Homo sapiens: one gene and its partners. The protein of the gene in region 1 purifies or fractionates together with the protein of each later gene. This does not show direct contact. Each region holds a gene or a part of one and is shown in the gene's direction. Other genes may lie near its edges.

Region 1 (7,964 bases):
TCAAGGGGACCTTACAAGGAGGCTGTTTTGATTGTCCCGGAGTCATAGCATGGGTAGCAGTGGGGATGGGGTGGACAGCAAGGGGCAACTAGTAAAGGAGGCAGGCAGGTTGGTTCTGGGGCAGGAGGTGGTAAGTTCAGTCTGGACCTGCTGCTGGGTTCGAAGGAAGGTACTGAGCAGGGAGCTGGAGTTGCAACCCGCATCTGGAGGGTATCAGTCACACAGAGGGGACAGTGGGGCCATGACAGACAAGGAGGACATCCACGAGAAAGGAAGTCCCCCAGGGAGACAGAAACCAGGGTCAGAAAGACAGAGGCTGGCAGTCTGAACTTAGCTCAGGGCTGAAGCATGTCAGCCACACAGTTCTTGTTTTTTTCCTTTTTTTGTTTTTGTTTTTGTTTTCGAGACAGTCTCACTGTCGCCCAGGCTGGAGTGCAGTGGAGCAATCTTGGCTCACTGCAACCTCCATCTCCTGGGTTCAAGCGATTCTTCTGCCTCAGCCTCCCGAGTAGCTGGGATTACATGCGTGAGCCACCACGCCTGGCTAATTTTTGGATTGTTAATAGAGATGGGGTTTCACCGTGTTGGCTAAGCTTGTCTCAAACTCCTGACCTCAAGTGATCTGCCCATCTTGGCCTCCCAAAGTGCTGGGATTACAGGTGTGAGCCACCATGCCCGGCCTGAAATTAAGTATTAATAATATATCCTGGACAAGTGGAGTGGCTCACACCTGTAATCCCAGCACTTTGAGAGGCCAAGGCGGGAGGATCATTTGAGCCCAAAATTTCTAGACCAGCCTGGGCAACAAAGCGAGACCTCATCTCTACAAAAAATTTAAAAAGCAACTGGCAATGTGGCGCATACCTGTAGTCCCACCTACTTGGGAGGCCAAGGTTGGAGGATCACTGGAACCTGGAAGGTTGAGGCTGCAGTGAGCTGTGCCACTGCATTCCAACCTGGGTGACAGAGCAAGATCCTGTCTCAAAAAAAACCCAAAAAAATTGGGTGTGTATTTTCCACTTAGAGCACGTCTCAATTTGGACCAGGGCTGGTGAGCTACAGGAAGCTAGTGGCCACTGCATTGGACAGCACATGTGTGTAGGCTGAGAAAGATCAAAGAAGCCCAGCCGTGGTAGCTCACGCCTGTAATCCCAACATTATGGGAGGCTGAGGTGGAACGATTACTTGAGCCCAGGAGTTTGAGACCAGGCTGGGCAACATAGTGAGACACCATCTCTACAAAAAATAAAAATTAGGCTGGGCGCGGTGGCTCACGCTTGTAATCCCAGCACTTTGGGAGGCCGAGGCGGGCGGATCATCTGAGGTCAGGAGTTTGAGACCAGCTTGGCCAACATGGCGAAACCCTGTCTCTACTAAAAATACAAAAATTAGCCGGGCGTGTTGGCACGCGCCTGTAATCCCAGCTACCCAGCAGGCTGAAGCAGGAGAATCGCTGGAACCTGGGAGGCGGAGGCTGCAGTGAGCCAAGATCGCACCACTGCATTCCAGCCTGGGCGACAGAGCAAGACTCCATCTCAAAAAAATAAAATAAAAATAAAAATAATTAAAATTAAAATTTTAAAAAAATAGAGAGAAGGGACACTCTGAGATGCTCATTGCAGGAACCCTCAAGGGGCAAGTTGTAATGCCGAAGGCTGCAGATGGGGTGCCACAGTGTTGGAATGGTGAGGTGGAGGGAATATCTTCCTTGGGAAAGAGGGAGACTGGCGGTGTTCCAAAGCCCTGATGGAGTGAGAAGAGGACACCTGGTGGGGAAGGACTGTGTGTGTGTAGGGGGTGTTGAGTGCCAGGTGCAGGTTGCCTGGCCTGGGGCTGTGCGTGCCATCCCCCCAGCTCAGGAACAGGGCCTAGCTCAGGGCAGAGACTGCTGTTCAATAATACTTGTTGAATGAATGAATTATTGATTGAATGATATGAAGAGGATACTCTCCCTCTGAATATGAAAGGGGACAGACCGAGGAGGGGAGGATGAGGTGGGGAGGGGCTTCAGAGGGATGTGAACCCAAGGGGTGGTTGGGGCCTGTTGGAGGATTCCCAGGGGCTGCACCTGCCTGTCCACACCTCCCTCCAAGGCCACCCTGACCCTGATATTACCCCCTCCACCCAGGGCACTTTCCAGCAGATGTGGATCTCCAAGCAGGAATATGAGGAGGGCGGGAAGCAGTGCGTGGAGCGAAAGTGCCCCTGATGGCACTCCTCCCCACACACCTGCTCCCAAGCTCAGATGGAAGTCCCTTAACCCCCATGCCACATTGCCCCCCTCCTCCTTTCCCTCTTGTCCTCATTAATGGTGATGTTTCTGGGTTGAAAGAAGTAAAAATGTTTTAAGAAAAAAAAGTTTGGCCTCCGTGGGGTGGGGAGTGGGCACAGGGGTCTGGAGGGAGGTGAGGGGAGGGAGTCTCACTTCTACACCCATGCCGATCCCACAGTGGGTGCTGGGACACAGCCCCAGGGGCCATGGATTCCTCAGGTTTCCTAGGGGTTGTGACCCAGGGAGGGCCACATGACGAGGACCGGGGGTTGGGGGAGTTGCTGGGGGCTAACAGTTGTGGTGGGAGGTGGGAGGGGCTGCAGGGTGCAGTGGAGGGGCACGGCCTGGGGTGAGTGTGGCAGGAGGTGGGTGGAGCAGGAGGTGAAGCCTGGATGGGCGGAACAGGAGGTGGGGCCTGGTGGGCGGGGCCTCAGCGTAGGCCTTAGGTCTCAGGGGAGCAGCACGCCTGAGCACCCCAGGACCTGCGCTCAGGTGAGATGCGCTATGCCTTCCTTCCTGGGGCTCTTGGTGGTGACAGACATGGGGCGGGGACTAGGGCGCTGGTGCATCCCAGCAGCTCGGAACTTCTCTGGACCTGAGTAGGAGCTGATGTTTCCCAGGGGAAACCCGAAAGGGAAACTTGGTGGGACCCTGAGCCCTCCTCTTCAGAGCTACTTGTCTTGGGGCCCTCGGAAGGGTTTGGGGACCTGCGCCCCCTGCCTGTTTAGCAGTTTATGCCTGTGACATGTTTCTGGGGTGAGGCTAACTGGCCTTTCATCAGCCTCAGAACCCAAAGAGGTAGAAACCCATGTGATCCAAGTCCTTCGGTGACCAAACGGGCCGGTGCCCAGGGAGGACCATGACTTGTCCAGGGTCACCCAGCTCTGCCCACACCTTGGCGGGGACTCTGATCACTCCTCCCCACTGACCCACATATCCCTGACCCCAGGACCCCTATCTGGGAGCTCTCGCTGGTCTCATCTGACCATGTGCTCCCACCTGTGCCCCTCCTTCTCCAGCAGCCAGCAGGAGTCTGAGAACGACCTTTCAAAAGAGACACACATGCACACCACCAGACCAGACCCCCAAGTCACACCACTGTGGTGCCTCCAGCTTAGAATGCCACTGGGGCAAGTGTCAGGACAGGGAGGACAGCTGATATGTCACAGGACCGGGGCACTGGGGGACTCTGAAGGCCAGATGAGGAAGGGGCAGATGTCTTAGGGGTGAATCTTCCACCTGGGCATGGCGGGGCTTAGGAAGGGGTCCCCAGGATCCAGGGAGGGGTAAAAGCAGGAGAGGGGAGGGGGCACCCATGTCTCTGCCCTCCCCCACTATCGGCCCCCTTCCCCCACCCCTGATGGGAACTAGGAGGCCAAAGTCCGCCCCAAGGTCAAAAAATTGATTGTTTTGCAGGGAGGAGGCAGGCGTGGGGCTGTGGAGAGATTGGCAGGGGAGAGCACAGCCCCTTGTGCTCTGGCCTGGACCCGGGGGCCACGTCTGGAAGGCTGGACTGAGGCCAGGACTGTGCCCCCACCCTTGGGGGTGGTGAGGAGCAGCCTTGGTTCAGGCTGCCTGCCAGGACTGATAAGGGGCCCTCCTAGGGCTCCCACAAACGGTTTATCGGTTTATCGCTGGGGGACAGCCTGCAGGCTTCAGGAGGGGACACAAGCATGGAGCGGCTTTGGGGTCTATTCCAGAGAGCGGTAAGACTAGTGGGATTGGGAAGACCCCTTAGGCCTTCTCTCTAAGTCCCTCAGCCCCCTCCCAAGCCCCTGAGGCTGGCCCCTCCTGGACCGTGTCCTGACCTCGCTTCTTCCCACCCCTGCCCCTCCCCCACGCCCCCACCACCATGCTCATTTGACACCCCCAAGTCACTGACCTCATTATTGCCAGATGCCTCCCCACCCCCCAGGCCTCTTGCCCCAATCTCATGCCCACCTCGCCTGCACAGCAACAACTGTCCCCAAGATCCTCTCAGACCGTCTACCAGCGTGTGGAAGGCCCCCGGAAAGGGCACCTGGAGGAGGAAGAGGAAGACGGGGAGGAGGGGGCGGAGACATTGGCCCACTTCTGCCCCATGGAGCTGAGGGGCCCTGAGCCCCTGGGCTCTAGACCCAGGCAGCCAAACCTCATTCCCTGGGCGGCAGCAGGACGGAGGGCTGCCCCCTACCTGGTCCTGACGGCCCTGCTGATCTTCACTGGGGGTGAGAGCCGTCCCCCTCCCCAGAAGTGAAGGGCTTGGGCTGGGGGAGATTTCTGGGGTCCAGAGGTGGGCATAAAGAGAATCCCCATCTTGCCACCCGCCAGCCTTCCTACTGGGCTACGTCGCCTTCCGAGGGTCCTGCCAGGCGTGCGGAGACTCTGTGTTGGTGGTCAGTGAGGATGTCAACTATGAGCCTGACCTGGATTTCCACCAGGGCAGACTCTACTGGAGCGACCTCCAGGCCATGTTCCTGCAGTTCCTGGGGGAGGGGCGCCTGGAGGACACCATCAGGTAGGGATGGCCCTGCCCCATCCTGTTCTCGAGTGTCCCTCCCCTCATCCGCTCAGACTGGGCCTCCCTGCCTCCTGGCCCAGGCCTCTGGTGTCTGGGTCCCCCTCCTGAGTCCTCCCATCTGCCTTCCTGGCCCCCCTGTTCAGCGGTCCTGGGAAGGATGGCAGGCATTCGGAGCTGAGGTTCCAGGGGACTGAGGCTCTGAGGGTGGCATATTTGGGAGGTGAGGGAGCTGACTGTCTGAGATCAGAGGGGTGCAGCATCCAGTATCAGACTGGACAGACCCAGAAAAGCCTTGAATGCCTCACCCAGGCGCCTAGATTTGGAGCAGGGAGCGCTGAGGGGTTCTGAGAAGCCGCATTCTAGGGAATCAGAAAACCAAGCAAGCAAGCCTGGGCAATACGATGAAACCCCGTCTCTACCAAAGAAAACACAAAAATTAGCTGGGGATGATGGCGAGTGCCTGTAGTCCCAGTTACTTGGGAGCTTGACGGGGGAGGATTGCCTGAGCCGGGGAGGCGGAGGTTGCAGTGAGCCGAGATTATGCCACTGCACTCCAGCCTGGGAGACAGAGCGAGACCCTGTTTCAAAAACAAAATAACGGCAGGGTGCGGTGGCTCAGGCCTGTAATCCCAGCACTTTGGGAGGCGGAGGCGGGCAGATCACTAGGTCAGGATATCGAGACCATCTTGGCTAACACGGTGAAACCCCGTCTGTACTAAAAACACAAAATATTAGCCGGGCATGGTGGCGGGCGCCTCTAGTCCCAGCTATTCGGGAGGCTGAGGCAGGAGAATGGCTTGAACCCAGGAGGTGGAGCATGCATTGAGCCGAGATCACGCCACTGCACTTCAGCCTGGGCAACAGAGCGAGACTCCATCTCAAAAAAAAAAAAAAAGAAAAGAAAAAAAGAAAAACAAGTAAGCAAATGCATTTGTGGGTGCAGATCCAAAAGCTAGGTCCACCCATAGCCCTCTTTTGGGACGGGAGTAATTTTTCAGTGGATTCGCCTGGGTTTTCTAAGTAGGTAATCAGCTAAGCTACAGATAGTAGGAGATGGAGATTCTCTTTTCCAATGCTTATACCTTCTACGTTTTTTTTTTTTTCATTTCTCATTGCATTTGAGAGGACATGAATTTAAGGTAACCGTGGCAGTAGGTATCCTTGCCTATTTCCTGACTTTAATAGCAATGCTTTTATAATACTTTGCCATTGACAATGAACTTTGCTGTGCTCCAGACAGCTTTTTAAAATTGAATTAAGGAAGTTTCCTTTCACTCCTAGCTCACTGAGACTTTTATTGATTGATTGATTTTTTGAGACGGAGTCTCCCTCTTATCACCCAGGCTGGAGTGCAGTGGTGCAATCTTGGCTCACTGCAGCCTCCGCCTCCCAGGTTCACGCGATTCTCATGCCTCAGCCTCCTGAGTAGCTGGGATTACAGGTGTGTGCCATCACGCTTGATTAATTTTTGTATTTTTTAGTAGAGACAGGGTTTTGCCATGTTGCCCAGGTTGGTCTCCAACTCGTAAGCTCAAGCGATCTGCCAAAGCGCTTCGGCTTCCCAAAGTGCTGGGATTACAGGCATGAGCCACAGCACCCAGCCTCTTCTTTAATGTTTATATAGTAATTTGTGTTAATAGATTTCCTTATCTTCCTGAGCTCAACGCTAACCTTGATCAAGGTGTATGATTACTCTTTTGATATGTTGCTGGATTCACCTGCTGAAAGACCTTGAGTCTGTGGAATCAACAATGTTCAGGGCTTTATTTTTTTGAGATAGGGCCTCACTGTCACCCAGACAGTGCCGAGATGATAGCTCACTGCAGCCTCCAACTCCTGGACCCAAGTGATCCTCCCACCTTAGCCTTTCAAGTAGCTAGGACTACAGATGTGTGCCACTATGCCCGGCTATTTTTTTTTTTTTTACTTTTTTTGAGACAGAGTTTCACTGTTGCCCAGGCTGGAGTGCAGTGGTGCGATCTCGGCTCATGGCAACCTCCACCTCCCAGGTTCAAGCAATTCTCCTGCCTTAGCCTCCCGAGTAGCTGGGATCACAGGTGCCTGCCACCACACCCAACCAATTTTTTGTATTTTTAGTAGAGACGGGGTTTCACCATGTTGGGCAGACTGGTCTCAAACTCCTGACCTCAGATGATCCACCCACCACGGCCTCCCAAAGTGCAGGGATTACAGGCATGAGCCACCATGCCCAGCCTAATTTTTAATTTTTTTTAGTAGAAACGAGGTCTCCCTATGTTGCCCAGGATGGTCTCAAACTACTGGCCTCAAACAATCCTCCCACCTCAGCCTCCCAAAATGCTGGGATTATAGGAATGAGGTACCGCACCCAGCCTGCTCAGGGCTTTTAAATTAAATTACAGGTCAGGCATGGTGGCTCACACCTGTAATCCCAGCACTTTGGGAGGCCGAGGTGGGCAGATCATGAGGTCAGGAGATCGAGACTATCCTGGCTAACATGGTGAAACCCCGTTTCTACTAAAAACACAAAAAATTAGCTGGGCGTGGTGGCGGGCACCTATAGTCCCAGCTACTTGGGAGGCTGAGGCAGGAGAATGGCATGAACCCGGGAGGCGGAGCTTGCAGTGAACCGAGATCGCGCCACTGCACTCCAGCCTGGGCGACAGAGCAAGACTCTGTCTCAAAAAAACAAAACAAATACAAAATTAGCCGGGCGTAGTGGCGCATGCCTGTAATCCCAGCTACTCGGGAGGCTGAAGCAGGAGAATCGCTTAAACCCAGGAGGCGGAGGTTGCGGTGAGTCAACGTCGTGCCATTGCACTCCAGCCTGGGCAACAAGAGTGAAACTCCATCTCAAAAAAAAAAAAATTAAATTACATTAATTTTTTTTTGAGACAGGGCCTTGCTCTGTCACCTAGGCTAGAATGCAGTGGTGCAATCTGGGCTCACTGCAGCCTCGATTTCCCAAGCTCAGGTGATTCTCCCATCTCAGCCTCCTGAGTAGCTGGGTCTACAGGGAGGGGCCACCACGCCCAGCTAATTTTTCATTTTTCTTTTTTCAAAATTATTATTATTATTTAGGGACAGGATTTATTTATTTTTATATATTTGCAACCAATTCTCACTCTGTTGCCCAAGCTGGAGTACAGTGGCATGATCTTAGCTCACTGTAACCTCCGCCTCCCGGCTTCAGGTGATTTTTGTGCCTCAGCT
Region 2 (7,281 bases), on another chromosome or scaffold:
TTGATACATGAGAATAGATATACATTGTGTCAAAATCCTCCAGAAATTTTTGATTTCCAGAAATACCAATCTGGCAACTGTTGATACATGAGAATAGATATACATTGTGTCAAAATCCTCCAGAAATTTTTGATTTCCAGAAATATCAATAATGTGATATGAAGAGCAGAGTATTTGACATCTGTTTTTACCTCTGAAAGTTAAGTATTTTATATAAATTGAAAATGATGAGAAATTCTGAAATGTTAACAAAGAGTATAATTATATTTAAATCCAATTTCAGTTTGAAAGATTTTATAATTATAGGAAAAGCTAGGCAGGTAACGAAACTGCACTGTTCGTCTCATGTATGAGTCTCTCCAGAGACTTAGGTCTAGTTTAAGGAGAGTTTTTTTTCTTCACTTGTCCCTTTTTGGATATTAGTACTCTGGAAATCAGTCTGGGTGGAGGGGACCGATTTATCTCAGGTTCATTAATTATCCATGTCACTTGAAATATATGTACATTGGAATAAAACCCAGCTGAGTTGATTGGGTCGTGTCTCTAGTATTTGAGTTTAGCGTGGTTATGCAAGAGAGTCATTGCCAGAATTCCTGCCCTTAAGATCCATGGCCATACAGTTGATTCACCACCCACCCTCAGGGAAGCGCCCTTATCATAAATGGTAGTTTGGACTCAGAGAAATTGCTATTTGGGGCAGCTAATTTAAGCATATTTGTTAGAATCAGTATTACAGACTAGTTTCTAGCAATCTTAAATATGGTCAGTGTTGACTATCATTCATTCTTACTCCGTTCTGTTTACTCTTTCCTAACTTCACATCTTTTCCCTTCCTCCTCAGACACATAGGTATATTGTCGCACCTTGAGGACACTGTGTCATTGCAGAGCCTGTTCTCCAGATCAGTCATTCACATGTCTTTCACATGCAGAGTTTTTTCCTGTCAGAGGTGATCTAAGAGATCGAGGCCCATCTGCCTGGAATGCTCACGGATGTGCATCAATATTTGCATGCATTCCCAAGTCAGCAAAAGATCGGCAGTGTGGAAGCCGGAAAGATTTCAGTCTCAGCTAGAGTAGGGAATTGGGCTGCTTTGGGAAAGCCCGCAGAGTAGGAGATCTTGAAGTTAGATGAAAAGCAGCTGTAGCAAGTGATAGGAAGAGGCACTGGTTGGATTGACTCGTCTTGACTTTGGGCCACACGGGAAAGGACAGTACTGTCACAGCCTCCGTGTGCATTTAACTTTTTTACTCTAAATATAACACAACCAGAATCTGCAGGGCTGAAATTATTTATATACATATCCACACACTCATGGGATTCTTATGTATAGCCAGGTTGGAGGATCACTGATAGAGCAGTGCTGATCAGTGGCCACAGAGAATGGGAGCAGGGACCCCACTCTCAGAGTATCAGAATCCCTGTATTAGCAATTTAAAAAAACAGCTTAATTAAAAAGTAACCTAAGTCATCAATACAGTGAGAGAATAATACACCATACCCAAGCAAGGTAAATTTCATAGTGAGAAGAGAGTTCAGTATTTGGAAATTTATTATTGTGTTTCATTATGTCACTGATTCACAACCATAGTGTTCCTTCTTTTTAACAATCACACACCTAGTACCCCTTCTTTGTAACAAATATTTTGAACTCTTTGGCAACCTAGAAATAAAATGCACAGATAATGTAATCTTTCTGGGCATATAGTTTAATATATATATAATGTCCTAACATTTTATATTTACATGTATATATACTTGTGAGTATGTCTCTAGCCTTCACAGTTTGCTCTGTTGTATGACTTGTAGGGAATTGAAAAGTAGGTCTTCAGAGTATATTTTTAAAGGGCTCCCACAAATCAGTTTAGAAGGAAATAATTACTTGCAAATGGTATTGGGACAGTGTGTTAGCTACAGTCACTGGGCAAAACATTTGTTTGGTTATTCACCACACATACACTAAAAGAAACTGCAGATGGACGAAAATTAGATACAAATAATTTTTTTATGTTTAAAGAAAAATAAGACCAGGCATGGTAGCTCATGCCTGTAATCCCAACAATTTGGGAGACTAAGGAAGGAGAATTGCTTAAGCCCAGGAGTTTGAGACCACCCTGGACAACATAGCAAAACCCCTTCTCTACTAAAAAAAAAAATATAAATAAATAAATAGACTTCCGGAAAAGGTGGAATTTTACATCTTAAAAAAGAATGGAAGAGCAGGCACGGTGGTTCGCACCTGTAATCCCAGCACTTTGAGAGGCCAAGGCAGGCAAGTCACTTGAGGTCAGGAGTTCGAGACCAGCCTGGCCAACATGGTGAAACCCCATCTCTACTAAAAATTTAATAATTAGCCAAGTGTGGTAGCGTGGGCCTGTAATCCCAGCTACTCGGGAGTCTAAGGCAGGGAATCACTTGAACCCAGGAGGTGGAGGCTGCAGTGAGCTGAGATCATGCCATTGCACTCCAGTCTGGGTGACAGAGCAAGACACTGTCTCAAAAAAAATAAAACAAAATGAAAGAATGGTAGAACTCTCAAAGGAAAATACTAATGCATGTAACTGAAACTGAGAACTTAAAACACATCCAAATAAATGATCAAAAACAGATCTCCCACACAAAACAACTGGGAAACCTTGATTTAGAGAATGTTACTTTGGTTGGGATGATTGTGTGTGTATGCGTACATGAAATGCATTCCAAAATGGACACAATATTTTGGTCCTGGAGGGGAAAGTATGTTTTACATGACAGAAGTGAACCCCAAAATTCATCCAGCTGTCATTGGTCATCTGGACTGCAGTATTTATTTCTGGCAAAGTAGTGTTTGAGGCCATGGCAATACTAGGGGTTCCTGTCATTGTTGATAATAAACTCAATAGTCAAAGGAAACAGTGCCTCTTTTTTTTTTTTCTTTTTCCCTTTTCTTTTTATTTTTGTGAACCTACAAATTAGCTTGAATTATTCAAAAATAATTTACTTCTGTTCAGGTCACTTCCTACCACTTTCCTTTCTTACAGGAATTTATGAGACATATGCTAACACATATACATACCCTCTTAGTGTTGTGCTGCCTTTCTATACCTGTGGTTTAAATAAAGAGCAAAAAAGGTAAATAATATTATACAATTAAAATGAAAACACGGCCAGGCGCGGTGGCTCACGCCTGTAATCCCAGCACTTTGAGAGGCCAAGCCGGGCAGATCACAATGTCAGGAGATTGAGACCATCCTGGCTAACACGGTGAAACCCCGTCTCTACTAAAAATACAAAAAATTAGCTGGGCGTGGTGGTGGGTGCCTGTAGTCCCAGCTACTTGGGAGGCTGAGACAGGAGAATGGCGTGAACCCAGGAGGCAGAGCTTGCAGTGAGCTGAGATCGCACCAATGCACTCCAGCCTGGGCGACAGAGCGAGACTCTGTCTCAAAATAAATAAATAAATAAAATGAAATAAAATAAAATGAAAACACATTTTGCAAATCCCTAACTTAGAGCTGGCAGTCTTTTCCTGGCTATTAAGCAAAAATATCACAATCCCCTTCACCATTGTTAACTTCATGCTTTGTTAACATCTATTTATCCAGTTTCTGTGGTCTTTGATTTGGCACTGCCTCCTGCCTGCTTTTTTGGCTAGTTCACTGCTAATTAACGCCTCTCTCACAGAGTAGGCAGGAGAAATCAAAGGCCCTAAATTTCAGACTGGCCCTGTTTGCTCTTTGTTAGCTTCTCTAATGAAAAGTTTCATGGGGCTGATTGGAATCTTGGTATTAAACAGAGTTTGGGGGTGATCTAAGGACTTTATTATCGATGCTTTTCCTATTTTCTGTAATTGAAGTTGGCTGTATTGTCATTGGAGAAACAGACAAAATGGAAGAGTATACCACGTTGGTATTAGGGAACTTAGATTTGCGTCTTAACTAGGCCACTTAGCCACATGGCTGGTCTTTCTCTCCCATGTGTCCTACCCATCTGCGATGGTGCAGTTAGATAGGTTGCTCTCCCAGGCCCCTGATGTCTCTGTATCCTGTCGTTGCCTCCCTTGAAGGTCATGAAACGAGTGCGTACCGAGCAGATTCAGATGGCAGTGTCCTGCTACCTCAAACGCCGGCAGTACGTGGACTCAGATGGTCCCCTGAAGCAAGGACTGCGGCTGTCACAGACTGCTGAAGAGATGGCGGCCAATCTAACAGGTAATGGTGGGGGCTCGTCTGGTGGGGTGAGCCTGGAGCAGGAGAACTCACGTCAATATCCATGTGGAATTACTTCTCCTCTTCTCAAGACAGTGCCAGAGAGAGCAGACTGACCAAAAACCTCAGTGAGCTACGTTAAGTGAATGATGTTGGCCTCAGAGACCCTGTCTGTCATTTAGAGCGGTGCTCACATTGTCACTTCTGATAACCTCTGTGATTCCCCTGGCTAAAGTCATTTCCTTCCTCAGGACTTCTCAGTTACTTTATCTGTACCTGAAAGTACGTGCAACTTTTTCCTTCTGTAAACAATTAACCTACAAGACCCTTAGGGACAGGGTCTCCCTCTGTCCCCTTCTTGCACAGGTCCCCTCTCCTCCAGCATGGAGCCTCACATGTAGAAGTCAGGTTTGTTGAATAAATTGGTACTTCAGGATCTGTAGTTGGAAATATTATTATTATTATAGACACATTCCTGAAGTTTTTTTAATTTGTTTTTGTTTTTTAATGTTTTGAAATCCGATTCTATTTTAGAAAAACTTGAGTTGACTCCATCTGGATTAATAAGTATAGTCATCCCTCAGTATCCATAAAGGATTGGTTCCAGGACCCCTCCATGAATACCAAAATCCACGGATACTCAAGTTCCTGCCTGATAAGATGTGGTATAATATTTGGCATAGCAGGTTACATCTACAGACATCCTCCTGTATTCTTTAAATTGTCTTTAGATTACTTATAATTCCTAATACAGCCTACATATCACCTCATTCACATGGATTCATCATAGTATTCAGCACCTGGTAAATTCAAAATTTGCTTCTTGGGACTTTGGTGGTTTTTTTCCCCAAATATTTTTGACTTGCAGTTGTTTGAATCCATGAATGTGAAACCCACAGATACAGAGGGCCGACTGTAATTGTTAGCTATTTTGTGAGTTCATGTTTTTATGTAATATGACTTTATGACTTTCTTCTTCTTCTTCTTCTTTCTTCTTTTTTTTTTTTTTTTTTTGAGACAGAGTCTCTCTCCATCACCCAGACTGGAATGCAGTGATGCAGTCACAGCTCACTGCAGCCTCAACTTCCCAGGCTCAAGTGATCCTCCATCTCAGCCTACCAAGTAGCTTGGACCACAGTCATGCACAACCACCTGGCTAATTTTTTTTTTTTTTTGCTTGTTATTCTTGTTAGAGGTGGGGTCTTACCATGTTGTCCAGGCTAGTCATGACCTCCTGGCCTCAAGTGATCCTCCCACCTTGGCCTCCCAAAGTGCTGGGATTACAGGTGTGAGCCACTGTGTAACAGGACTTTCTTTTACTGAACTTATTTACTAGTGATTCTGGGGGAAAAAAATTGCTGGGATACTTTAGGGTGATTATAAACTACTTCAATGGCTGTGTGTGGAGGTGGAGTTAGCAGTGATTTCTGCAGCTCAGCCCTGGTTCCCTTTCTTATATGCTCAGGCTACATTCTTCTCTCTTCTTTGTTCCTGGGCTTTCTGTGATCTTCCAAATATCTTTCACCACGTGCTCCATTTCTTAATGGTTTCATCCTCCATCCTAGTAGCCGCAGTTACCTCAGCTCCCTCTTTTCATATACCTTCAAAGTCAAGGACCCAGGGTTCATTGCCATAGGAAGAGAGTGCTAGGACAGTAACAACCTGAGGATGCTCTCAAAGGAGTGGTTCCTGACTTCCTCTGAAACACTAACAGAAGCCCAGTCAGCAGCCTGCCATCACGTATTTCAGGGTTGGATCCACCCATTATTCCTTGCCTTCAAACTCCTCAGAGATACCCTTGACCAAAACAGGGCCAGATGATGGCCTTGGTATAGAATACTAAGTGCCTTATTGTTTGAATAGGGGAGTCCATTTACAAGGCCTCTGTCCCATTGTAGAGTAATTCCTTCTGAACATGCCATCCTAGCCATTTAAAAAATCTGCTGCCCTGCATCCTTTGGAACCAGAGAGCAGTAATTCTTGCTGTTGTTGATAGAAAGTAGGAATGAACAATATTAAACAGACTTCCAGAACTTTGCTCGTCTAAGTTGTCTTAGTTTCAATAGAATAGCTTATTAGGAGAAAGTGTTATTGCTGGAAAACCACCAGGAAAAGTGAGAAACATGAAATATGATTATCAGAAGATTTTGTCCTAGATTTTTCCATTAATTGAGTAATCTGAAGAATTCTTTTTTCAGCAGACATTTAGTGAACATCTGCTATAGGCCAAGTGCTGAAAAGTTCTAGAGATAGCTACGATTTGACCCTAGCTCTGAGAAGCTAAGTGTTCTAATTGGGAAGTGAGGCAGGTAAGTCAGTGATTGTAGAAGAGCATGAGGTAGTAAGTTCTGTGAGGGGGAGGTTCAGTGGTAGCAGAAAAGATCATCCAAATTAGGCTGGCAAGCCAAGGAAGGATCCCCAAAAGGCCTTGTGATTCCTGACATATAGTTGGGGGTCACTAAATAGTTGAAAGAGTGAGCTGAGTTGCAAAGGAACCATTAGATGTTTACCAGGGAACAAATTGGAGGAGGGTATCCAGGTTTTCAAATGTGAATTTTAGAAAACTCAGTCTGGTGGCAGTATTGATAAGGCAGCCCAGATTAGAATCGAGGAAACTAGTTAAAAGACGCAGTCCAGTGAGAAGTGAGGACAGCCTCAGTTGAGGAAGTGGTAATGGGAGTGGAGAGGAGAGGATATATTTTAGGAATCTGTAGGACTTAGTGACAGAGTAACTAAGCGGGGGGCAAGAAGAAGGAGGAGGAGTCCCTCCCTTGCATGCAGGCTTGCAGCAGGTCCTCTCTTCTGACTGTCTCTTCCTTCTCCTGGAGTAGGTTGGCTTTCCTCTCACCTGTGTTTCCCTTTCTACGTATTTCCTGTTATGGCGCCCTCAGTCCTGCCACATTCATCACCATTTCTCCATCCATATTCCATTGACAAAATGCATTCATGTTTCATTCAGGACGCGGTTAAAGGTGGCTTCCCTTGGTTTTTAGCCACCTTCTTTCCCCGGTGTTCCCCACTCCTCTTGTAAACAGGAGGAGAATGGTTTTTGTTTTTTGTTTTTAGAAAGCATAAACTCACAGATTGGAGATTA
Region 3 (7,281 bases), on another chromosome or scaffold:
AATGACACTTTTGTCATTTAATCTTTCAGTATGTCTACCAGTTGGGTGAAATTTCAGTTTATACCAGGTCACTACACCAGCATCAAAGGCTTTCTTGTATTTTGGGGACGGTGAGATAGACTCACACATGAACTTCTGAAAAAACACCTTCCTTCCTATATCATTCACTCTGTACTACAGCCAAATTTAAAAAAGAGGGAGGCATGTTCTCAGCTCTTCTCTGCCTTTTTCTAAAACCCGTAGTTTGCTTTTCTGAAGCCAGTTATTCAGATAGAAAACTTATACTGAAAATTAACAAAGCAGCTTCTGAACACAGAAAACAACAGGCTTGTCAGTTTCAAATTTGCTGCCACTGAAGCTTGAAACTCTTCTATGACTGGCTTTGACTTGGCCTCCTCCAGAGGACCGAGGAGAGGATTCATGGTTAATCTGTTTGTACCTTGCCTTTGTATGAACACATAAATGTCATGATTTCAAAACTATGATTTTTTCAAATGTTAATATAAATTTTAGAACAAAGAAGATACATTAATAAAGGCTTTAGAATTTTATATAATAATAAATGTTGTCAAAATGAAAGGGCAGATTTCCAAAAGTAAAGATATAAATGATTTACATCATCTGAAGAAAAAGACTGTGGCTGCCAACAAAGGAACTTAATTGCGGACATGTGCCACAGTATTAGTACTTTTATGCTTTTCTCTCGGTAGCTGTATCATTTATTATTTATTATTTCATTTATTATTTCCTGCTTTTAACCAGTTAATTTGAGTAATTCTAATATTCCTTTTTCCTTTATCTAGTGAGGTAGATTACAGAAGACAGCAGAAGGATTGAAATAGAGAATGGTTTATAGCAGAGATAAAAACTGAGTTCTCGCCTACTATTTAGAGATTAGTGTTAGCATCTGTTGTTGGTTTTTTTTTTTGTTTTTTTTTGTGGGGGCCGTTGTTGTTAAAGGACACGGAATATGGGGAAGAAAAATACTGCCTATCAAACTTCTAAAAACGGATCAAGGCAATGGCAGTAGATTTTAAGCAGATGTTTTTCTACCATAATAAAGTTAACAAAAAATTATTGTAAGTTCATTTATAGGATAATTTATTACTCATATGCCAAGCCTGTGTATTAATAACTTTTTAAACCTAAATGAGCTTATTTTCTCATAATGTGCAGGTGTGTAGTTCACCTCACTTTAATTAATGTTTGGTAACTAACCATGCAGTCTTCGCTGTCAAATATTTATATGCCTTTCAGTTATAAACTCCAATGCACTAAAAGCTCAGAGACTCCGAGGAACTCCTGAAATACCCTTATTTGAAAAAAATATTTATCTGAAAGTTACAATGAATGGAAACATCTAGTAGAGAAGTATTGTTTTTTTTTATTTTGGTGTTGTTGTTGAGACGGAGTCTCACTCTGTCGCCCAGGCTGGAGTGCAGTGGCACAATCTCGGCTCACTGCAAGTTCCGCCTCCCAGGTTCATGCCATTCTCCTGCCTCAGCCTCCTGAGTGGCTGGGACTACAGGTGCCTGCCACCATGCCCGGCTAATTTTTTGTATTTTTAGTAGAGACGGGGTTTCACAGTGTTAGCCAGGATGGTCTCTATCTCCTGACCTTGTGATCCACCTGCCTCGGCCTCCCAAAGCGCTGGGATTACAGGCGTGAGCCACCGTGCCCAGCCAGAAGTGTTGTTATGACCTAATGCCAGTGTAGTTACATTTAGTCACACGTTGCTTATCGATGAGGATACAATGAGAATACCAGGACACGTTCTGAGAAATGTGTTGTTAGGCAAGTTGATCACTGTGTGAGTATCATAGAGTATAGCCTACTACACACCTAGGCTATGTAGTATAGCCTATTGCTCCTAGGCTACAAACCTGTACAGCATGTGGCTATGCTGAAATACTGGAGACATTTATAACACAAGTATAGTATTTGTGTATATAAGTACATATAAACATAGGAAAGGTACAGTAAAAAACACAGTGTTCCATAGCTGAGGGTGGTGGTGTGTGCTTCTAGTCCCAGCTGCTTGGGAGGCTGAGTCAGGAGAATCACTTGAGCCCAGGAGCTTGGGACTGCAGTGAGCTGTGATCCCTCCACTGCACTCCAGCCTGGGCAACAGAGCAAGACCCTGTCTCTTAAATAAATAAAAATGAAAGTTAAACAACAACAACAAACAAGTTTTAGGAGTTTTATAGACTCCACCCACTCACCCAGATTAACCCCATAAATAAATAATGGACTGTTAGCTAGACACTTCATGTTCTACAACTCAAATGAGTTAGTTAACTCCTCTGAGCCTCTGTTCATTCATGTCCGCAGTAGATATCAGAGCTGTGTCCTTTCTTCATATGTGTGTTAGGAGATAACACGAAAGCTTTCATGGAAACACTTGGAAATTAAGGTGCTATAGACAAATCCTTTAATTAAAATAGAAAAAAATACATTCTTTGGTTGATTTGAAATTTTGTCTGAAGTAGATGTTACGCTACTTGGTTTTAGGAATCTTTTTTTTTTTTTTTTTTTTTGCCTGAGACGGAGTTCACTCTTGTTGTCTATGCTGGAGTGCAGTGGCACTAACTCAGCTCACTGCAACCTCCGCCTCCCAGATTCAAGCAATTCTCTCGCCTCAGCTTCCTGAGTAGCTGGGGTTATAGGTACGTGTCACCACACCCACCTAATTTTTGAATTTTTAGTAGAGACAGGGTTTCACCATGTTGGCCAGGCTGGTCTCGAACTCCTGACCTCAGATGATCCACCCGCCTCGGCCTCCCAAAGTGCTGGGATTACAGGCATGAGCCACCACGCCTGGCCAGAATCTTTTTATTATATGCAGATTATTTCATAGATAGGTATTTTATTATAACAAGATTTTAATTGCGTGTGTATAAATGATAGCACTATATATAAAATATATATATAAAATATAATATATATATATATATATACTTTTTTTTTTTTTTGAGACAGAGCCTTGCACTGCACCTCCCAGTCTGGAGTGCAGTGGTGCAATCTCGGCTCCCTGCAACCTCTACCTCCTGGGTTCAAGCGATTCTCCTTCCTCAGCTTCCCGAATAGCTGGGATTACAGGTGCACACCACCACATCCAGCTGATATTTTGTATTTTTAGTAGAGACAGGGTTTCACTGTGTTGGCCAGACTGGTCTTGAACTCTTGACCTCGTGATCCGCCCACCTTGGCCTCCCAAAGTGCTAGGATTACAGGCATGAGCCATCGTGCCGGGCTAATAGCACTATATTTTAAGATGCTTTGGTTTGCTATATTAGTGGTTATACCTTAAATTGTTGAAACATATCTTGTAAGTATAGATTAGGACTCTTGAATAGAAAATATTTAGGGGAACTATCTCATATTTTGCATGAATGAATGTTTGTGGTTGCTATGGGGATGATGAAGTGTACAATTAAAGATAATTGGATGGTTTTTAAGAAAACTCTCAGAAGCGTTTTGTGTAAACAGTGGTAATCTTGTTAAATCCCATTAAGATAAATCCAGAACATCAACGTGAGTATTAAACAACAGATTCTACATATTGGGATGTTTGTGGACACCACAGAGTAGGGAAAGGAGCAAGAAAGTCTCTAACTTCTTAGTGGATTATGTGGTTTGTTGGTTTTTAACTTGACTGAAAGCACTGTTGGCCGGGCGCAGTGGCTCACGCCAGTAATCCCAGCACTTTGGGAGGCCGAGGCGGGCGGATCACGAGGTCAGGAGATCGAGACCATCCTGGCTAACACGGTGAAACCCCGTCTCTATTAAAAACACAAAAAATTAGCCGGGCGTGGTGGCGGGCGCCTGTGGTCCCAGCTACTCAGGAGACTGAGGCAGGAGAATAGAGTGAACCCGGGAGTGGGAGCGTGCAGTGAGCCGAGATAGCGCCACTGCAGTCCAGCCTGGGCGAAAGAGCGAGACTCCGTCTCAAAAAAAAAAAAAAAAAAAAAGCAAGCACTGTTATTTGGGAAATGCCTGGTTTTTAGAGACAAATGAACAGAGATTTCAGCAGTGTAATTTCAGTCTTGACATGAACTATGACCAGAACTTTGAGCCGATGTGGTTTTTTGTGTGTGTGTGTGTGTGTGTGTTTTTTTTACAGAGTTTCTGTCTTGTCGCCCAGGCTGGAGTGCAGTGGCACGATCTCGGCTCACTGCAACCTCCGCCTACTGGGTTCAAGTGATTCTCCTGCCTCAGCCTCCTGAGTAGCTGGGATTACAGGCGCACACCACCATGCCTGGCTAATTTTTTGTATTTTTAGTATTTTTAGTACAGATGGGCCTTCACCATGTTGGCCAGGCTGGTCTCGAACTCCTGACCTCAGGTGATCCACCTGCCTCGGCCTTCCAAAGTGCTGAAATTACAGACATGAGCCACCATGCCTGGCCCTGTTGTGTTTCTTATGAATTTTTGACATTTTAAATTTTTAAAAATTCAGGTTCTTATTTCTAGTGCTAACTAAACTATAATACTTAAACTTTCCAGGATCTCTGTTTCCATTTGTAGCATGCAAGTATTATATTCTAACTGAAGATTATTGAGAGCATTTTCTTTAACTTCCACAATGTGGTTGGTTCTTACTTGATTTCTTGGTAGAACGTTAATAAGTCAACTCTATGATGGGGTTTTATTACTTTGTGTGTGTGTGTGTGTGTGTGTGTGTGTGTGTGTAGCCAAATGTTGTTTATTTGAAACCCATGTGATAAAAGTTTTAAAATATTAATATCCTCGCTATTTTAGGATGCACATTCACAAGGTGAGGTGGTATCATGCTTGGAGAAAGGCCTGGTGAAAGAAGCAGAAGAAAGAGAACCCAAGATTCAAGTTTCTGAACTCTGCAAGAAAGCCATTCTCCGGGTGGCTGAGCTGTCATCGGATGACTTTCACTTAGACCGGCATTTATATTTTGCTTGCCGAGATGATCGGGAGCGTTTTTGTGAAAATGTGAGTCAGCTCAGAAACTGTTCTTTTCTTCCTTTTATTTTTACACATATATAATTTTGTTTTAATTAATTTAATTGTGTTGTTTTTTGAGAGATTGAGTCTTGCTATGTTGCCCAGGCTGGTCACGAACTTCTGACCTGAAGCAGTGCTCCAGCTCAGCCTCCCCAATTTTTGAGACAGGATCTTGCTGTGGTGCCCAGGCTGGAGTGCAGTGGTGTGATCATGGCTCACTGCAGCCTCCAACTTCTGGGTTCAAGCGATTCTTCTGCCTCAGCCTCCCAAGTAGCTAAAACCATAGGCAAGCACCATCTTGCCTGGCCAATTTTTTTAAAAATTTTTTGTAGAGATGGGGCATTGCTGTATTGCCCGGACTGGTCTTGAACCCCTGGCCTGAGGTGATCTCCTCCCTCTGTCTCTGAAAGTACTAGGATTATAGGCACGAGCCACTGTGACTTAAATATTTTTTAATACTCTATTCTAACGTAAAATAAGCCATCAAGAAACCTCACATGTAGAAAAGCCACAGAAATGGAAGAAGAAATTGGTCCCAGTATAGCAGAAAGTGGTAACTGGATGCTCAACCTTGATGACTGAACATTTGGTTAACAGCTGGCTTCTAATGATCTCCACTTAGTATTTTTTCTGCTTTATCTCACTTCTCAATTTCAGTTCTTGGAAGTCTGTTTTATCTATAGGAATTTTATTTTACCCAGGATCTTATTTACATCTATTCAATGGCTAAAACTTTGACGCATTATATATTTATGTGTTTTTGGCTAAGGTGAAGAAAACAGCAGGTGGCTAATCTTTAAAACCAAATCCTTGATTACCACCTGCTGACTCTACAGAACAGCCTTCTAAGTCTTTAAATAGAATGGTCTCTCCATCCTTACAACAAAGTACTGAAAGTAACTTGTGTACACTTCCACTCTGCCTGCTGGTTTGCATTAACAGCTTTAACCATCAGAGCCACTGATGTAAGAGTTTCGTTAACTCTAGCATACACTTGTAAGAAAGAAGACTCAGAGGCTGGGTGCGGCGGCTCACGCCTGTAATCCCAGCACTTTGGGAGGCCGAGGCAGGCAGATCACTTGAGGTCAGGAGTTCGAGACCAGCCTGACCAATATGGTGAAACCCCATCTCTACTAAAAATAAAAAAATTAGTTGGGCAGGGTGGCGGGGGCCTGTAATCCCAGCTACTTGGGGCTCTGAGGCAGGAGAATTGCTTGAACCCAGGAGGCAGAGGTTGCACCGAGCTAAGATTGTGCCACTGCACTCCAGCCTGGGCAACAGAGCAAGACTGACTCTATCTCAAAAAAAAAAAAAAAAAAAAAGACTCAGACTCTAACACTTCTCTTGGTTCCCTAATTAACAAAATACATCTGAGAACAAATGACAAACTCCAAATATCATGGGAATATTTTTTTCGTCTTTACTGCAGTCACTGTTTTTGTTAAAAGCCTATTAAATTTTATAAATGGAAGCGCTGTTTGTCCAAAGGTATGTACGATTATAATCGTTTAATAGAAAGCTCTATATGAGATTGTGGATAATGTTCAGCATAACTATTTAGCTAAAGTAATAATAATGTGTATGTTCCATCTTATAGACACAAGCTGGTGAGGGCAGAGTGTATAAGTGCCTCTTTAACCATAAATTTGAAGAATCCATGAGTGAAAAGGTAAGTATTATTTTGAAACTAATGAATGTTTTATTTGTTTTTTAAAAGCTTTCTCAGCCAGACACGGTGGCTCACGCCTGTAATCCCAGCACTTTGGGAGGCTGAGGCAGGTGGATCACGAGGTCAGGAGTTCAAGACCAGCCTGGCCAAGATGGTGAAACGCCGTCTCTACTAAAAATACAAAAATTAGTCGGCCGTGGTGGTGGGCGCCTGTAATCCCAGCTACTCGGGAGGCTGAAGCAGGAAAATCACTTGAACCCAGGAGGTGGAGGTTGCAGTGAGCTGAGATCGCACCACTGCACTCCAGCCTGGGTGACAGAGTGAGACTCTGTCTCAAAAAAAAAAAAAAAAAAAAAGCTTTCTCAATTTCTCTGAAACAATATTTCTTATAATCTTATACCGAAACGTAAATGACTGATAAAGCTCACCGCTTTCAGAGGTGAGGTACTTGGGTTTTAAGCATATTTGGCTGAAACCAAGAAAATGAAACCCTGATTGTGATATCTAGATAGTGAGAAGCCAAGTAGGGTTCTCACTGTGGTGGTTTTTTTAGGTGTTTTTGTTTTGTTTTGTTTTTGTTTTTTTTTGAGTGGAGTCTTTCTCTGTCACCCAGGCTGGGGTGCAGTGGCATGATT
Region 4 (7,281 bases), on another chromosome or scaffold:
TAATTTTTTTTATCTATCTATCTATCTATCTATCTATCTATCTATCTATCTATCTATCTATCTGAGACAGAGTCTCGCTCTGTTGCCCAGGCTAGAGTACAGTAGGGTGATCTCGGCTCACTGCAGCCTCTGCCTCCCAGGTTCAAGTGATTCTCCTGGCTCAGCCTCCTGAGTAGCTGGGATTACAGGCATGCACTACCATGCCAGGCTAATTTTTGCATTTTTAGTAGAGATGGGGTTTCACCATGTTGGCCAGGCTGGTGTAAAACTCCTGACCTCAAGTGATTTGCCCGTCTCAGCCTTCCAAAGTGCTGGGATTACAGGCATGAACCACCACGCCCAGCCAGTTATTTTTAAATGTACAATTAAATTATTTTTTTTTTTTACTATAGTCACTCTGTTGTGCTAGCAACTGGTACGTCTTATTCATTCTTTCTATTTTTTTGTACCCATTAACCATCCCCACTCCCCCAACCAACTACCCTTCCCAGTCTCTGGTAACCATCCTTCTGCTCTCTGTCTCCATGAGTTCAATTGTTTTAAGTTTTAGCTCCCACAAATAAGTGAAAACATGCAAACTTTGTCTTTTTGTGCCTTGCTTATTTCACCTAACGTAATGACCTCCAGTTCCATCCATGTTGTTGCAAATGACAGCATCTCATTCTTTTTTACGGATGAATAGTACTCTATTGTGAGTATATGTACCACATATCCTTTATCCATTCATCTGTTGATGGACACTTCGGTTGCTTCCCAATCTTGGTTATTGTGAATAGTGCTGCAACAAACATGAGAGTGCAGATATATTTTCGATACACTGACTTCCTTTCTTTTGGATATGTACGTAGGAGTAGAATTGCAGGATCATATGGTAGCTCTATTTTTAGTTTTTTGAGGAACCTTCAAACTGTTCTCCATAGAGGTTGTACTAATTTACATTCCCACCAACGGTGTGTGAGGGTTCAACCTGGGGAGCTTTTTAAACACACCAATGCCTGGTCCCATTTGGATCTAACTCTTGGGGCTGGGGCCTCGGCTTCTGCATGTTTCAAAAGCTCCCCAGGGGACTTTGGTGTGCACGAGCATTGGGACACATCAGACTGTGGACTCTCCCTAAGGTGGCCCCAGACAGGAGTGGTAACCCTTTCCATCCAGGGGCTTTTGGAAATGTGGGAGGGTATTCTTGGTTGTCATGTCAACCAGGTAGGGCTCCTGGCATTTTGTGTATCAGGGAGGCCAAGTATCCTGCAGATCAGCCCTGTTCAGTGGAGAATGGTTCTGGCCCAGATGCCAATAGCATCCCTGTGGGTCCTGCACATTCTCCAGCCACGACTGGGAGTCCTATACTCCAATGCTGGTACAGCATTCCCCTAGTTTTCCCCTCCTTGTAAAAATTAGGCTTTCTGTGGTTCCAGCCAGCTTGATCACAAGCCATCAGTTCCTGGGGGAGCTGGCCTTTGCCAGGGGCCAGCTAGAACTTGCCCAGCAGGTCTGATGTTGGCCCTTTCAACCTTTTAAATAATGCCCTCAATTGCTTTAAATAAGCGGATGTTGGTGGATACCTAGTATGCAACTTCCTCAATTTGGGGAACTCACAGATCTAAGACCCTGTCTCACGCAACCTGTTCTGAACAGTGCAATTTCCCGATAGTTGTAATTCTTACCCCAGAGTGGTATTTCTAATATCCCCTCTGACTTTCTGGTGTCATTCTAAGGACACCGAAAGCTCAAGTCTGGTTGATCTCTGTTGCACTGTCCTGTGTGGCAGGACTCTTAGGATTTTTAGGTCTCAAATTCCAGACAACGTCCCCCAAAATGTACTCAAGGAAATCTAGTGTTCACACGTGGTCTAGTCTCAGTCCATCTTTCCTGGTGTAGTGGCAAATGCAAAGAAACACGGCCTGGAAGCATGCTGAGGGATGGCCAGATTTGTAATAATGTGGAGAGAACCGTTGAAGCCAACACACAGGCTGATACCTGCAAAAGGAAATTATAGCATTTTTCACTATATGTAATATTTCACAATAACAAACATTAAAATAAAAAAATAGCAATAGTTTCAGGTTCTCTGCCAGCTATCTTAAAAACATTTTCCCAGGAAGTCCTCACATTAACCCTCTGAATGGATATTATAATTCCAGTGTTACCACTGAGGCAATAGGCTCTGAAGTTAGGTGACTTGGCTAATGTCACACAACAAATAAATAGCAGGATTAGAATTTATATTCTAATTCCAAAGCTGACCCTTTGGTCTGGGTGCACCTTTGTTCTTAGGAGATAAGTATTTCTTGATGTTAAGGTGTTTCATTGTGATTAAACCTCTTGCACTTCTGAGAAATTGAAATCATAGAGCGTTTGGTCAGAATGTCCATGGATAGAATCAGAGCATATTAAAGTCATGGGACTTTTTGTTTTAAAGCCCTCCGTGGCCCCCAGATCTCCCCCATGGTGGTCACCTGCCAGGGCTCTGACACGGCTGCAGACACCTGGAATAAGAGAAGCAGGTCTTTCTCAGATGTTCCTCCCTCTTATTGGAAGGAAGACAAGAATTCACCCTTGAATTTCCCAATTGTCTTCCTGCTGCCCGTCTGCATAGGAGAGACGGATGGATGTCTTGGGTGCTTTCAGGATCCATGAAGAGGAGTCGGCAGTGGTGTGCCCGGTGATTGATGTGATCGACTGGAACACCTTCGAATACCTGGGGAACTCCGGGGAGCCCCAGATCGGCGGTTTCGACTGGAGGCTGGTGTTCACGTGGCACACAGTTCCTGAGAGGGAGAGGATACGGATGCAATCCCCCGTCGATGTCATCAGGTCAGGAGCTGACTTCTGGGTGACTTGTTTTTTAAGCATGCCTCATTGAATCTGGCTGACCTGTGAGCGGAGGCCCTCGGGAGGAATGGTTAGCTGTCAGCTTAACTACCTCCCCTCTTCCCACTTTTTTGCCCAGAGTATTTGTTTATTTTTATTAAACGTGTCTGCTACACATGTCAATTTTATATCGGTATATTTTATTTATTTAATTTTTAAATTGTGGTAAAATATACATCATAGAGAATTTACCATTTTAACCATTTTGAAGTATGCAATTTTAGGCTGAGCATGGTGGCTCATGCCTATAATCCCAGTACTTTGGGAAGCCAAGGTGGGAGGATTGCTTGAGTCCAGGAGTTTGAGACCAGCCTGGGCAACATAGCAAGAACCTATCTCTACAAAAAAATAAAAATTAGCTGAGCATGCTAGTGTGTATCTGTAGGCCTAGCTAGCTGGAAGGCTGAGATAGGAGGATCGCTTGAGTCAAGGAGTTCAAGGCTTTAGTGAGCTATGATCACGCAATTGTACTGCAGCCGGGCGATAGAGTGACACCCTGTCTCTATAAAAAAATAAATAAATAAAACAAAGCATGCAATTTTAGTGGCATCGAGCACATTCACGGTATTGTGCAAACATGATCTTTACCTATTTCCAGGAATTTTTCATCATCCCACACAGAAAATATCCCCACTAAGCAATAACTTCCCATTCTCCCCTTCCCAGCCCCTGGGAACCTCTGTTCTTTCAGGCGCCCCATGTGAGTGGAATCATACAATATTTGTCCTTTTGTACTTGGCTTCTTTGACTTATCATCATGTTTTCAAGTTTCCTAGAGAACATCATTCCTTGTGATGGCTGAGTAATATTCCTTTGTACATATATGCTACATTTTGTTTATCCATTCTTCTGTTGGTGGACACTTGGGTTGTCCTTTGGTTATTGTTAAATAATGCTGCTATGAACATCGGTGTACTTTTATCTGCTTGAGTCCCTGTTTTCCATTCTTTTGGGTATACACCTAGGAGTGGGATTGCTGGTCATATGCTCATTCTTGAGGAAACATCTTTAGGCCCCTTTGACCTGGGGTGTGGGTGGATCCATGGCAGGTGGAGGAGTCTGCTCTGGCCAGTGGGTGAGTCAAGCTCTGAGTAGAATGGGCCCAAGGGAGGCTCAGCAGCTCTCATTCTGGAGGTTTTGAAGTGATAGCCTGGCTTCTTCCTCCCCTTCCAAGTTCAGAAGCAAGTGGGAGACAGATGTGGGAGTTGGGCAGGAGGAGGTCAGGACTTCAGCCTCACCGCTGGTGTGTTGAACCGGAAGTAGGCTCTGAGTTTTGCGTCCACATTTGGCAGTTGGGCTTCTGAATTCTTTCACCAGAGTCCTGACCTTAAGATGACCCGCTGCTGGCAGGAGTGGAGCAAGCAAGGAGAGTGTCCAGAGATAAGGCTGGAGAGATGGGCGGGGCCAAGGGAAGGGGTTTGGACTTGACCCTGAGCAGGTAGAAGCCACTGAAGGGATCGGAGCAGGAAGTGACCTGAGCATGTGCTGCGTGCCATGTGGTGAGGGCCCTGGGGGGACCGTTGTAGGCAGGGATACCATTAGGAGGCTCTGCAGTCTTCCAGGTCAGAAACAATGGTTCAGGAGATGGTGGGCACTGTGGATTCCAGAGATGTTAAGATGGAAGAATTGGAAGAAATTGAGTGGGAATTGGGGAAGGAAGGAATTAAGAATGGCACCCAGGCTTCTGTAGGAGCCCTTAGTGAGAACATCCTGCTCAATCCCTCACTGAATAGGTTTGGAAACTGAGACACAGAGCAGGAGGCTCTAATCTAGGCTACTTAGGCAGCCTGTCATGAATTCATGGGGGTCCATGAATTCTAATTGCCCCGTTACCCCACATGCTCAGGGCACCTATCCTCCCCATCCCATAATATCCCTGTGCCTCAGTTATCTCATCTGTATAATAGGTACCAGCATATCCACCCTGCTTATTTCCTAGATTTTTAGGATAAACACACGTGAAGGTGCTTTGTAGTCTAGAACCTTCCCTTCCACTGGGGATGTTGCTGTTGTCTTCTCAGTTGGCCCCATGCTTGGAGTCCAGGGCAGGCCCCGATGCTGCAGGATGTTAACATTTTCAGTGGTTGCGCTCTCAATGTTCTCTTTCCCTATTTTTTTTTTCAAGTTGGGGTCTCGCTTTGTCACCCAGGCTGGAGTGCAGTGGCATGATCTCAGCTCTCTGCAACCTCTGCCTCCTGGATTCAAGTGATTCTCCTGCCTCAGCCTCCTGAGTAGCTGGGATTATAGCTGTGGGCCACCACACCCAGCTAATTTTTGCATTTTTTTAGTAGAGACAGGTTTTCGCCATATTAACCAGGCTGGTCTTGAACTCCTGACCTCAGGAGATCTGCCCGCCTCAGCCTCCCAAAGTGCTGGGATTACAGGTATGAGCCACCGTGCCCAGCCCTTTCCCTATTTCTGAATTCATCCTTTTGCCTGTGCAACTCTGGGACGTGCTGACCTTACAGTGTTCTGCCGTGTAGGCTGGAAGCCGTGGGCCGTTTCTGGTTAGTGCTGGCTTCCAGATAAACCTGGTGGTGGGTGGCGGGAAACAAGGCTGGCTGAAAAAGCAGCCTGAGGCTGGCTAGCTGGGTCCTAGTGGAGGAAACCACTCAAGAGGACCTGGCCCTCGGGGCACTTTCAGATGCCAGAGTTGCCTTTAGGGCCTTCTGCATACTGGCCTCTGAGTGGCATCTGTGAGTGCCTGCCTTGTGAGATCACACCTCCTCAGATGACCATGGCCTGGAGCCTGCCTTCTTCTCGGAACGTGGTCTCTTGCTTCTCTCTTCTCCTTGCTCTCTATGCTTCTAAATGTCCCTGGATTTCTCCCACCCTTAAGCCTTTGCTCATGCTGGAGAACCATTCCATTTCCCTTCTTCTTCTTGGCTAACTGTCCTTTGTCCTGCAGACCTTGCTTCCTCCAGGGAACCTAGTCCTGCCCTTTTGCCCCTGCCCTCCTCAGTGTTCTCCCAGGGCCCTGGCTGACCTTAGTTAACATATTTAGCACACACATAGTACTTACCTGCTGAGAAGCCTGGGAGCCACCTCAAGGCAGGGACCGTAGGGTACATCTATGCCTCCAGGCCCAGCCTAGTGTGGGGCACAGAGGTGAAGGCGGGATATGCTTAGAGATGACAGATGAACAGATGAAAGGGCTCGTGGTGGGAAGGTAGTTGGATAACTGTGATGGTTTTCTGCTGTCTACAGTGAAATAAGGATATCATACTTTTTTAGGTCTCCAACAATGGCTGGTGGGCTGTTTGCTGTGAGTAAGAAATATTTTGAATATCTGGGGTCTTATGATACAGGAATGGAAGTTTGGGGAGGAGAAAACCTCGAATTTTCCTTTAGGGTAAGTATTTCAGTCTTCTCTTTGGACATGTTCTTAACTGATTCTCTCTTTGGGAACGATGGGATTTGCTGTAAGAGCCTGGTGGACCCTGAAAGATGATGACACGCATATCCTATAAACATGCTTGCTTTCTTGTTTTAGCTTTTTAAAAAGTGTACTTTTTCTAGATTTGGGGCCAGCAAGGGCCTTGCGAGTCACATAGTTCTCTCTCACTCTATGGAGAGGAGGAAATGAAACCAGGAGAGAGGTGACTTGCTCAGGGTTAGGTTCCTCCTGATCCTGTCTTCTGGAGCCTTTACTTGATTAATTCCTTATGAAGTGGCCTCTTTATTTAGCACAGTGCCTTTCAAACTTTGACAGATGTAAGAATTTCTTTTTTTTTTTTTTGAGACGGAGTCTCGCTCTGTCGCCCAGGCTGGAGCGCAGTGGCACGATCTCAGCTCACTGCAACCTCCGCCTCCTGTGTTGAAGTGATTCTTCTGCCTCAGCCTCCCGAGTAGCTGGGATTATGGGCATGTGCCATCATGCCCGGCTAATTTTTGTATTTTTAGTATAGACGAGGTTTCACCATGTCATCCAGGCTGATCTCAAACTCCTGACCTCAGGTGATCCACCCGCCTTGGCCTCCCAAAGTGCTGGGATTATAGGTGTGAGCCACTGCACCCAGCCAACACATGTAAGAATTGCTGGGTAAACTTGTTAGAAAGACAGATTCACAAGCACAATCTAGAATTCTAGCTAGATTTGATAGCTTTAGGGTGGGACCAAGATTCTGCTTTTTGTAACAAGCCTTCCTACTGATGCTACTCTACATGGCCCGTGAAAACCGTATTGGAAAACTCCTAGCATTTCAGTAGATTTTCCAGTTAATGAAGTCTTACATTTTAAGCATCAAAACTTTGTGTAAATGTTGGTGCTTTTCAGTGGAAAATTAAGATTTTTAATAATATTTTATATGGTGTTCTGCCCTCATAAAAACTGAATAAACAAGAATTTGGCCTTCTACCGAGGACTCACGCCCTCTGTAATAAGTACCAGATGCTGTGCTTGGTTGTCCC

Evidence for each region.
Region 2: the proteins of TFR2 (region 1) and TAF5L purify together in Homo sapiens (affinity purification with mass spectrometry; one large-scale study listed by BioGRID and IntAct). This does not show direct contact.
Region 3: the proteins of TFR2 (region 1) and GLG1 purify together in Homo sapiens (affinity purification with mass spectrometry; one large-scale study listed by BioGRID and IntAct). This does not show direct contact.
Region 4: the proteins of TFR2 (region 1) and GALNT12 purify together in Homo sapiens (affinity purification with mass spectrometry; one large-scale study listed by BioGRID and IntAct). This does not show direct contact.

The regions. Positions count from the first base shown.
Region 1 is NC_000007.14:100,637,491-100,645,454, reverse strand, and holds the start of TFR2 (transferrin receptor protein 2), read left to right. Parts: upstream 1-3,902; 5' UTR 3,903-3,945; coding exon 3,946-3,978; intron 3,979-4,226; coding exon 4,227-4,479; intron 4,480-4,582; coding exon 4,583-4,769; intron 4,770-7,964. Other genes in the region: ACTL6B (actin-like protein 6B), read left to right, coding at 2,129-2,209. UniProt on the Homo sapiens protein: Mediates cellular uptake of transferrin-bound iron in a non-iron dependent manner. May be involved in iron metabolism, hepatocyte function and erythrocyte differentiation.
Region 2 is NC_000001.11:229,611,250-229,618,530, reverse strand, and holds part of TAF5L (TAF5-like RNA polymerase II p300/CBP-associated factor-associated factor 65 kDa subunit 5L), read left to right. Parts: intron 1-4,045; 5' UTR 4,046-4,048; coding exon 4,049-4,190; intron 4,191-7,281. UniProt on the Homo sapiens protein: Functions as a component of the PCAF complex. The PCAF complex is capable of efficiently acetylating histones in a nucleosomal context. The PCAF complex could be considered as the human version of the yeast SAGA complex.
Region 3 is NC_000016.10:74,494,125-74,501,405, reverse strand, and holds part of GLG1 (Golgi apparatus protein 1 isoform 3 precursor), read left to right. Parts: intron 1-4,761; coding exon 4,762-4,965; intron 4,966-6,574; coding exon 6,575-6,646; intron 6,647-7,281. UniProt on the Homo sapiens protein: Binds fibroblast growth factor and E-selectin (cell-adhesion lectin on endothelial cells mediating the binding of neutrophils).
Region 4 is NC_000009.12:98,829,144-98,836,424, forward strand, and holds part of GALNT12 (polypeptide N-acetylgalactosaminyltransferase 12), read left to right. Parts: intron 1-2,596; exon of another isoform or gene 2,597-2,605; coding exon of another isoform or gene 2,606-2,628; coding exon 2,629-2,814; intron 2,815-6,105; coding exon 6,106-6,223; intron 6,224-7,281. UniProt on the Homo sapiens protein: Catalyzes the initial reaction in O-linked oligosaccharide biosynthesis, the transfer of an N-acetyl-D-galactosamine residue to a serine or threonine residue on the protein receptor.